Linked DNA regions of Homo sapiens: region 2 is linked to region 1. A link means that fine-mapping ties the variant in region 1 to the expression of a gene that starts in the linked region. Tissue or cell type: whole blood. Region 1 holds a variant in brackets; the other region holds the start of a gene. All regions are shown on one strand. Distances are from middle to middle.

Evidence for each region. PIP is the estimated chance that this variant, and not a neighbour inherited with it, causes the effect.
Region 2: it holds the start of SLC38A10, and the variant in region 1 is fine-mapped to the expression of SLC38A10 in whole blood (TOPMed, PIP above 0.99).

Annotation. Positions count from the first base shown.
Region 1 is chr17:81,178,098-81,183,277 of GRCh38, reverse strand. PVALEF (parvalbumin like EF-hand containing) reads right to left here. Exons shown (of 7, transcript NM_001354639.2): 3 at 4,126-4,360; 4 at 1,946-2,155; 5 at 1,584-1,719; 6 at 1,197-1,312; 7 at 112-313. The coding sequence starts at 2,051. The coding sequence ends at 267. Among named protein-coding and RNA genes, the nearest start is that of AATK, 14 kb to the right of the region's middle. The variant G/A (reference allele first, on the strand shown) is at 3,094.
Region 2 is chr17:81,292,966-81,298,091 of GRCh38, reverse strand. It overlaps SLC38A10 (solute carrier family 38 member 10), which reads left to right and starts at 2,785. Exons shown (of 16, transcript NM_001037984.3): 1 at 2,785-3,269. The coding sequence starts at 3,171. It overlaps LOC124904082 (a long non-coding RNA gene), which reads right to left and starts at 186. Exons shown (of 2, transcript XR_007065941.1): 1 at 1-186. RefSeq lists an enhancer at 2,120-2,209 and silencers at 2,870-3,139, 3,240-3,309.

The DNA of each region.
Region 1 (5,180 bases):
TCCCACCCTCACACGCCCACCCTGCCCCCCAGCCGTTGTCACCCATGGCCCTGATGCTGCCCCCACCCCAGTTCATACCAGCATCCCCAACAGACACACCAGGCTGCGTCATTCACTTAATGCTGCTTTTCTTCCATTTTCCTTCAAAAGCTGGGTCCACCCTCACGGCTGCCGCCTCTTACCGGCCCCAACGGCTTCTGCCCAGGTGCGTGGTCACCCCGGTTACCCCATGGGAGCCCCTTGGCTGGCCAGGGCTAGTCATGGTGCTACTTCTTCTTTGGAATTTTCTCCTTTTTGATCAATTCAGAAAATTCTAGAGCAGGAGACCAATTTAAAGTAAGTACCCCTGTTTTGTGTCCCCCAGTTCCTGTAGGCCCTTTAACTCTCAGAGGAGGCAGAGGGAGTGTGCCTGGACTACACAGTCCAGGGGGTCCTGTCCCCAAGTCCTTGAGCAGGGACCAGGCCTCCAGCCCATCTGGCCGGGGGCGGCCCCACGCTGGAGCTGTTTGTCCTGGGCCCAGCTGCTTGGTCGTCACAAGTTGACCCCAGCTGGGGACTGGGGGCTTGCAGTGGCCTGGCTCTCTGCAGAGACTCTCAGGAATTCCCACCAGACCCTCTGAGAGCAGGTGCTCATTGATGATCATCTCTCAGTGGGGAAACTGAGGCACGGAGCAGCTGGGGGGCCTGAGTTCTGAGAGGGGTCAGGATGCCTGTCAAGCCTTGTGACCCCCCCGCCACAAGCCAGGTTTGCTGGGGTTTCTAGACCCAGGCAGATGAGAACGGCCGGTGGCTGGGCAAGCGGTGTCTGGAGGCCCAGCCCACCTTGTGTGCCCTCCACCCTCCAGGCCTGTGGCCAGCCACTGGGGTTGTGTGGGGGTGAGATGGCCCAGACCTCAGGGCAGCCATGGAGAGCCTCAAAGACCGTGGGTCCCCCAGAAGATGGCACCCCGAGCTCTGAGACCCCATACCCGCTGGCTCTGCCACAGTTGGCCTTCCCAAAGCCCTCCTGGCCACCTCTCTGCAGTGGGGCCCTTGGCCCAGGGAAGAGCACCTAGACTCCCGGCCCAGACCCCTGAGCCTGGGTTTCCTCATCTGTGAGTTGTGTGCCAGTGCCCTCGGGGCGGGGCCATGGGCAAGGGTGGCGGCCTAGCAGGGGAAGGAGGGTCCTGAGGGTGCCCCGGCTGTGCTGCCCCCACCTTCGTAGTTGATCCTCCCGTCCCCGTGTGTGTCTGCCGCCTGGATCATGGCCTCGGCCTCCTCGTCTGTCAGCGGGGTGGTGGGCCCGCTGCTGGGGATGATGGACAGGATGTACCTGGGGCCAAGGGGGCTCGAGTCAGGGCCAAGGGGCTTCCGGCCAGTGCCCAGTGACTCACGAGCCGTTCGCCCCCCACCTTGTAGGCAAGGGCACTTCGGGCCGGGAGCCTGGGCCTCTGAGCCTCCTGGGCTTCTAGCTGGTTCTGGCCCAGCCCTGCCAGCTGCAAGGCCAGCGGGGACCCGGTGGGGGAAGGCCGGGTCCGCCATGTGGGCATTCGGCGTGGTCTGGGTGGCCTGGGCCCCACCCCTCCGTGGCCGCCAGCCATTACTTGATCTCGTTCCACTCAATGAAGCCACTCTTGTCCTTGTCCAGGGACTGGAAGGCCGTGTGGATGGCGTCGTCCAGCTGGCCCGAGGCGTGGAGCTTGCGGATGTGCTTGAAGAACTTGAGGTAGTTGAAGGACCCTGGGGCAACCAGGCGGGGCTCACGGAGGGGCCCACCTCACTTGAGCTGGGCCTCCAGGGAAGACCCCGCCCTGGGATGGGGGCTGCCGGGTCCTGCACCCCCATGTCCCCGCCCGCCGCAGGTCCTGGTGTCCTGGACCCATCAGCCCCAGAAAAGGGATGAGGTCTCCTGACCACAGCGGGGCTGGACGGGCGGGGGGCCGCGCCGGGCGGGGGCATGCTGTACCGTGGTGTCTCATGTCTGTGGGCAGCAGCTCAATGTCCTTGTCTGATAGGGACGTGCCCATGGCCAAGGCCATCTTCTTCATCTGGGAGGAGAAGTCCTCCTCCATCCTGGTCCTGGGTGGATAGGGAGTCAATTCGTGGGGTGCACGCACGGATTGGGGGTGCTGCTTGGGCCAGAGCAGACGTAGACGCCGCGTGGTGCTGGATCCTGCTGTAAAGTGGGAATGGTGACAGGCGTCACAGTGTTGGGGTCATGCCAGGGCCCCGAGACATGCTGGGATCCCAGCCAGGCAGGTGGGGGTCTGGGCACAGGCAGAGGGGTCAGCGGGAGGGGCCGGGCCATCCTGTGCGCCTCACGGCAGCGCCTTGTGACCTGCTGGGCTCTCAGGTTGCCGTCCCCAGGGGGGGTTGGGTTCTGGGGCTCAGCACAGCAGCTATCTCAGAGCGCAAGGGGAAGCGGGTGTCCTGGGCTTCTTGGCCCTCGTGAAAGTTCACAGGGTGGTAGAGCCTTCTGGAACGCTCTTGCTGCCAGGAGGGGCGGCCTGTGTTCTCGAGTGGGGCTGAGCAGTGGCCAGAGGCATCTCTGCTCTCCTCTGGATAGAGAGGCCATAGGTCAAGGGTTGCAACCCAACCCTGGCGCCCCAGAGGTGTGAGGAGCGCCAGTTGCAGCCCCTGGACCAGGTCCTGCTCCCCAACCCTCGGTGCCTCCAGCTGCCATGTGATGTGGGGAGACGCCTGCCCCTTCACAGGGTTGTGCGAGGAGCCAGGAGGGAAGGGAGATGGTGGGGAATGGGCTTGCCCGCTGCTGTGGGGCTGGAGCTGGGCCCCCACAGCCCCTGCAGTGGCTGATTCCCCCAGCCAGCAGGGTGGTGGTGAGCGGGCATGTGGGGCAGGACTGGGCCTCGGAGGCCCTCAGGACAGGCCCCGCCCCACTTCATTCAGAGCTGGGACTCTGGCTCACCTTCCCCAACCCTGGCATCTTGGGGACCTGTTTTGGAAGAGGGAACACCCACCTACCACTCGGGGCCCCGGGCCCAATGTCACCTCCTTTACAGAGGAGGGGCTGGGCCGAATTCCAGGCTAAATGTGGCCAAGCCAGGAACCAATGTCCCATCTGCCCAGTGCTGGGGGTGCCCCTGGGCTGGGCTC[G/A]TTCACCACCCCCAATCCCACTGCTCTCAGGGGTGCCCCCAACGAAGGCAGGGGAGCCCGAGATCCGGGCTGGAGACAGGGTGGGAGGCAGGCCTGGAGCTCCAGGCTGCTGGTTTATTTATAGCTCGTGCATCCGCGGCCCGGGCTGGAGTTTAATGGGATCCCAGTGAGCTGGGATGTCCGGCCGGGGGAGGCTGCGGGACGCCACACAAGCTGTCCTTGGGCCCTGCTCAGATTCTGGGGGCTGCCCTCAGTGCCAGGAAAGGCCCTGCCAAAAGGCCTCTGTTTCCCCACTCCCTTTACCCACCCTCCACAGCTAGAGATCCTGGAGCCTCCAGGCTGGGCTAAGACCCCTCAGACCACACACCGCCCCAGCATTGCTACATCTGGGATGCCCTGCTCCGGGCCATTCCCGACCTTCCATTCTCGGAAGCTGTGGTCTGCCCACAGCAACTAGCCTCTGCCACCCAGTCTCCAAGGGCAGATGCTGAGATGAGAGAGGCCTCTCGGGGGAAGGGGTGATAGAGGCAGTGGGGTCCCTCTGGGTCAGGGGCAGAGTGTGGGGACCAGAGCCGGCTCTGTGTGCCTGCTGGAGTCCGGGGGCCAGAGGCCTTGGACTCGCTGCCCTGCCAGCCCCACCCCATCTCCATCCCCACTTAGAGCCTGGGGGCCTAGGGACAGAGTGAGCAGGTCCAGCTCCCTATGCAGAGGCCCCAGCTCACAGCCGCCTCTTGTAGCCGTGCCCACAGAGGCTCGTGCCAGCACACACGTGCACACATGTGCTCCCCGCAGGACCAGGCACCTGCAGCTGTCTTCCATCCGGGGGCCCCCTTGGGGCTTGTAGTGGTGCTGCTGGCAGGGAGGGCCATTCCTTCTGTTTCCACCCCATTTCCCCACCTCCCCTGGGTCCCCTGGGGTCTCCCAGGGCCACCCTTGTCCTGTGGATGAAGAGAAGGCCTCCAAGTTCCCACCATCCAGCTCGGATAACCTCAGCGGCCAGAGACCCACACCCCCCTCCTTGGCAGGGCTTACCTCTGCCTGGCTTCTTTCGAGAGTTCTGGAAGGTGGGTCAGGCTGGGGTGTGGAGAGGCCCAGGGGCTCCAGCTTTTATACCTGCAAGCCTGTTTACATCTCGGGGCTGCAGCTGTCCTCGCCCCTCCCCGGCACTCCAGCCTGGCACGGGCAGCTCCCAGGGGCTCGCAGGCACTTGGTGTGTCCACACTGGTCTGGGCAGACTGACCCTTAGCAGTGCCTGGCCTCCCCAAACCTGGGGCGGGGTTAGGGAGGAAGAGAGGGCACCAGTGAGCCAGTGAGCAGGTGACCGAGGCCAGCTGGGCAGACAGCAGCTGGAAGCCTGAGGTCAGAGGGGCTGAGGGACCTGCCCAAGGTCATGGTGCTGGAACCCACGCCTCGGGCCTCCAGTGCAGCGGGTTGTACACAGTGGGAGGGGCTGCGGGCGGTGGGGGTGGTGCAGGGAGATTGAGGCTGGGGACCCTGCCCCCCCCAGCTCTGGTGCAGGAAACAGGTTGCAGGGCCAGACATGTGAGTGGGGTTTGAAGGGGCAGCCGAGTGGGTGCTGCGGCCCAGCCTGCGGGCTTGGGCCGGGTGGAAGGGGCACAGCACAGCCTGCAGGCCGGTGGGGGTGGGGAGGCTCCAAGTTCATATGGGACAAAGTTTATCCAAGCCACGTCCTCCTCCCAAACCACCCTCCCCTGGTGGTGAGCAGGGAGGGCCAAGGTGATCCCTGGCTGGCTCTGAATACACCAGGGGCACGGTTACCTTCTGCCAGGGAGGGTGGTGCCAACAGCCCTGCCCCTGTGGGGTGGTCATGCTGGGCACCGCAGGCCTGTGAGGAAGCCAGGGATGGGGCTGTCTGCCGGGGTCGGGGGGGCCTGGCTTTCTACTGGAAGCCACAGGACTGCCCGGGCCTCTTACATAGGCCGTGGTAGCCTCTGCTCATGTTGGAGGTGGGAGGGTATTGTCCTCACTAATGAAGGTGACGGTCATGATATGTGACAGGTGACAATGAATGTAATAACAGTGTCATCTGCCATTGGCGGGGCCCCAGGGGTCTCAGCAGCCTCTTG
Region 2 (5,126 bases), 110 kb before region 1:
AGGTTCCAAACAGCATGATGAAGGAGCGGCAGACCCCCTCCTAAGAAATGACCTAGAAGTTTCTCCTGTCATTTCTGCTTCTTATTGTCCAAAACTTGGTCACATAGCCAGCCCTACCTGCAAGGGACACTGGCAAGTGTATTCTTTTTTTTTTTTTTTGAGACGGAGTCTCACTCTGTCGCCAGGCTGGAGTGCTGTGGCGCGATCTCGGCTCACTGCAACCTCCGACTCCCTGGTTCAAGCGATTCTCCTGCCTCAGCCTCCTGAGTGGCTGGGATTACAGGCACACACCATCACGCCCGGCTAATTTTTGTATTTTTAGTAGACAGAGTTTCACCATATTGGCCAGGATGGTCTCGATCTCCTGACCTCGTGATCCACCCACCTTGGCCTCCCAAAGTGCTGGGATTACAGGCGTGTGCCACCGCGCCCAGTCTTTTATTTATTTTTTTGAGACAAAGTCTTGCCCTGTTGCCCAGGCTGGAGTGCAATGGCACGCTCTTGGCTCACGGCAACCTCTGCCTCCCGGGTTCAAGCGATTCTCCTGGCTCAGCCTCCCAAGAACCTGGGATTACAGGTGCGCGCCACCACGCCTGGCTAATTTTTTGTATCTTTAGCAGAGATGGGGTTTCACCATGTTTGCCAGGCTGGCCTCAAATTCCTGACCTCGTGATCTGCCTGCCTCGGCCTCTCAAAGTGCTGGGATTACAGGTGTGAGCCGCCATGCTCGGCTGGAAGTGTATTTTTTATCCTAGGCAGTCATACGTGCAGGCCAATTCCTATTAATTTGGAAAATGGAATAAACGAATATTAAGAGACAGAGAGTCAGCTGGGCGCAGTGGCTCACGCCTGTAATCCCAGCACTTTGGGAGGCCGAGGTGAGCAGATCGATTGAACCCAGGAGTTTGAGACCAGCCTGGACAACATGACAAAATCCCATCTCTACAAAAAAAGTGAAAATTAGCTGGGCATGGTGGCACACACCTGTAGTTTCAGCTACTGAGGGCCTGAAGTGGGAGGATCACTTTAGCCCAGGAGGGAAAGGCTGAAGCAAGCTGAGATTGTGCCACTGCACTCCAGACTGGGTGACAGAGTGAGACTCTGTCTCAAAAAAAAAAAAAAAAGAGACAAATAGTCTTCCCCATAATTGTTTAGGGATATATCCATATATGGTAAACCTTTAAAGAAAAGTAATGAATTGATGGAATCTGGATTGTGATGTCTCAGGATAGCAGGGAAGAGGGGAAGAAGGTGCTGGAACTGGGGAGGAACTGAAAGGGAGGATCTAAGTCTTCGGTAATATTTTGTTCTTAAAGCTCAATAGCGGGTCCATGGTATTTGCTATTTGTGAAAACATACATGTAAATTGCCCAGCCTACCTCGCATGCATAACATTTGATGAAAATTACATAATAAAAAGGAGGTTATGGAATGTGTATGCCATTTCATTTATATAAAAGTAAATGGGCTGGGTGCGGTGGCTCATGCCTGTAATACCAGCACTTTGGGAGGCCGAGGTGGGCGGATCACCTGAGGTCGGGAGTTTGAGGCAAGCCTGGCCACCATGGTGAAACCTGGTCTCTACTAAAAATACAAAAATTAGCCGGGTGTGGTGGCGGGAGCCTGTAATTCCAGCTACTTGGGAGGCTGAGGCATGAGAATAGCTTGAACCTGGGAGGTGGAGGTTGCAGTGAGCCAAGATCACACCACTGCATATACAGCCTGGGCGACAGAGCAAGACTCTGACTGAAGAAAAAAAAAAAAAAGAACGCAGGCATTTGTTATTTTGCCTGCGTATTTAATTAGTCTTTACCCAGGCATTTCCTCCTGTTCTCCTGAAGGTGGGGCACAGCCTTACTTGGTGGCTGCACTGCCAGTGCCTGAGGAACGGGCCTCTGTTCTAAGACACCTGGTCCTGCAGGTGCTGCAGACACGGCCTCCTTTCCTCCGCCGTCCTCCCCCAGCAGCCTGGAATCACTTGCTGCTTCCCAGCCATTCGGTCTACGCGCTCATTCATTAGACTCAGAGTGAGCAGCTAGGTGCCAGGAATCCACAGATCTATCGGGACCCTTCTCTGTTCTCTCCTCTCCCCGGTCTCCATTTCTACCCGAGGAATTCTCATTTGTCCTTCAAGCTCCAGCCTAGAAGCCACCTCCTTCTGGAAGCCCTCCCGGGTTTCCCTGTTCATGTAAGCCTCCACCTCTCCTGTCCCCTCCAGGAATGTCCCTTGCTCTTTTCGTGTGAAAAGGTGAAGTTCAACATTGCCACTGATCTGGGCGCAGTTCGGCAGGGCACCGCCTCCCCTTGGAGCTGTGTGGCCTTAGCGGAGTGGCCGAGCCTCTCTGTGCCCAGCGTTTCATTCCTACCTCCTAGGTGCTAATTCCTCACAACAGACTATTTTTCGGCTGAGGCAGTCAGGGCCCCCGCCCCCGTGCCCTGGCGCCAAGCACTCGCCCCAGAATCGGTCCTGGGAATAAAGGTCAAAAAGGAACCCTTAAACCCGCTCCTCCCCGGAAGGCACAGCGCCTCCCCTTCTCTCCAGCCCGCGACTGCCCATCCAAACCGAGGCCTCGCGGGGCGAGTCCCTTGTCCTCCAGCTCGTTGAACTGGGGCCCCGGGCACAGGTCGGCTGGACCAGCTTGGCGAACCGGACAGCTGCGAGACCCTCAGGTGCCCACCGGCCCAGTTTCCGCCCGCCCCTCCGGGCCCGCCTCTCATTGGCTCGCGTCCCACCAAACCCTACCCCCTGGCCGTCACTTCCGGGCAACGGAGCCCGTGGAAGGCGGAAGTGTGAGCGCCGCGGCGGCAGCTGAGTTGGGCTGAGGTGTCCCTAGCTGGCTCTGCGGCTCTTCCGGGTCTGGGCTCGGAGATTCACAGGCGGCCCGCGAGGCCGAGCGAGGGACGCATGGCCCTGAGGCGGCCGCAGGGCTTGGCGGGGTCCGGAGGTTGACCTCGCCCCCGCAGCCGGCCTTCGAGGCTGCCTCCTCCAGGCAGCCTCTGGGGCCCGCGCCCGCGCCTGCTCAGGCTCCCGTGTTCAGGCTGCCCATCCCCTCCCCACCGGCGTCCCGGACGTTGGGACCTGTGACCGTGGCCTCGGGCTGGGCTTCCAAAGCCGGCCGCAGCCCGGCGACCCCCGAGGCCTCTCGCCCCGGGCCCCTAGACCTCTCACTATGACCGCGGCCGCCGCCTCCAACTGGGGGCTGATCACGAACATCGTGAACAGCATCGTAGGGGTCAGTGTCCTCACCATGCCCTTCTGCTTCAAACAGGTGAGTCCGGTGGGCCCGGAGATCACCGCCCTCGCCTCCCCCGCAGAGGGGGCGTCTGGCTGGGTCGTCCTGGTTAAAGTTCCCGCCGGGGCAGGGCTTCGCTGGGCGGGTGCAGGCGGCCGCGGGCGGGGCGACCCTCTGGGTCCCGGCGCAGTTCCCGTAGAGAATCCGTGGATGAGAAGCGCACGGCGTTGGCCCTGGCAGCCCTTGTCAGCCCGGGCCGGAAAGTTCCCCACACTCAAAAACTCGATACCGAAGCAAAGTGTAACAAAGCAAAATGATCCTCCAGAATCGGAAGGGAACGGTGGGACTCCGTATTTTTACATTTTATCGTGTTTTTAAAAACTCTGACCCAACTGCACCTGTCTTCAGAAGCACACAACTCACCACTCCCAGGCTTCGACACTAGATAGGGACCTTGGTTGCAAGGTGATTAAAAACATCCACCAGGTTATACACCTAAGATCTGCGTTTCACAAAAACCGCACATTTGGCAGGGGGTGGTGGCTCACACCTGTAATCCCAGCACTTTGGGAGGCCGAGGCGAGTGGATCACCTGAGGTCAGGAGTTCGAGAACTGCCTGACCAACATGCTGAAACCCCATCTCTACTGAAAATACAAAAATTAGCCGGGGGTGGTGGCACATGCCTGTAATCCCAGATACTTGGGAGGCTGAGACAGGAGAATAGCTTGAACCTGGGAGGCGAAGGTTTCAATGAGCCGAAGGTTGCAGTGAGCCGAGATCACGCCATTGCACTCCAGCCTGGGCGACAGAGGGAGACTCCGTCTCAAAAACAAAAACAAAAAACTGCACATTTGATCTAATGTGTGCAGACGTTACCACAGTTGGAAAAAATCTCAAATACAAAAAGTTTAGCGTCATTCCAGCATTGAATAACACATGAAAGAAAATGGCCATTTCTAAGTGTCATCTGTTTAATCTACAATAAACAAGCATTTAGTGCTTTGGAAAAGAAAGGCTGACTGAAACGTTACCAAGTAGGTAGAAAAATGAAAACAACATGTATATTTTGAAACAAAGTGGCACCAGTAGTTTAATTTTAGATTAGCTTAGCAAACACTGTGTTTTTCATATTCATTATCTTTGGAATAAAAATATCCAAAAAATTTTTTCAGCCTGGGCAACATAGTAAGACCCCGTCTCTACAAAAAAAATTAAAAGTTAGCTGGGCATGGTGGTGCATACCTGTAGTCTCAGCTGCTCGGGAGGCTGAGGCAGAAGGATCACTTGAGCCCAGGAGTTTGAGATTACAGTGAGCTATGATTGCACCACTGCACTCCAGCCTGGGCAACACAACAGTACCCCATCTCTAAAAAAAAAACAACTTTTTTTTGATCAAGGAATTTTCAAACCCTCCCGTGCAGCCCTCCAGGCTGTTGTGTCTGAGTTGTTTGCCTGATATGGTTGGTGAGCCTGTCAGGGGAAGACAGGGCTACATGCCTCCAGAGCCCCCCGGGCAGCATCTGGTCTGGGCGTGGAGAATCCCAGCTTTCTGCCAGCCACCTCTGGGTGTTTCTGGACTGACTCCATGTCCCAGTGTCCACTGTGACTTGCCTGGCAGCAGAACTGCATTCTGGCATGTGGAGCAGTAGCTGGTCCTTCTCCTGCAAGTCAAAGACTGTTATCTTTGTTTTTTCAAGACGGAGTCTCGCTCTGTCACCCAGGCTGGAGTGCAGTGGTGCAGTCTCGGCTCACTGCAACCTCTGCCTCCAGGGTTCGAGTGATTCTCCTGCCTCAGCCTCCCAAGTAGCTGGGATTACAGGCATGTGCCACCACGCCGGCTAATTTATTTATTTATTTATTTATTTATTTGTATTTAGTAGAGACAGGGTTT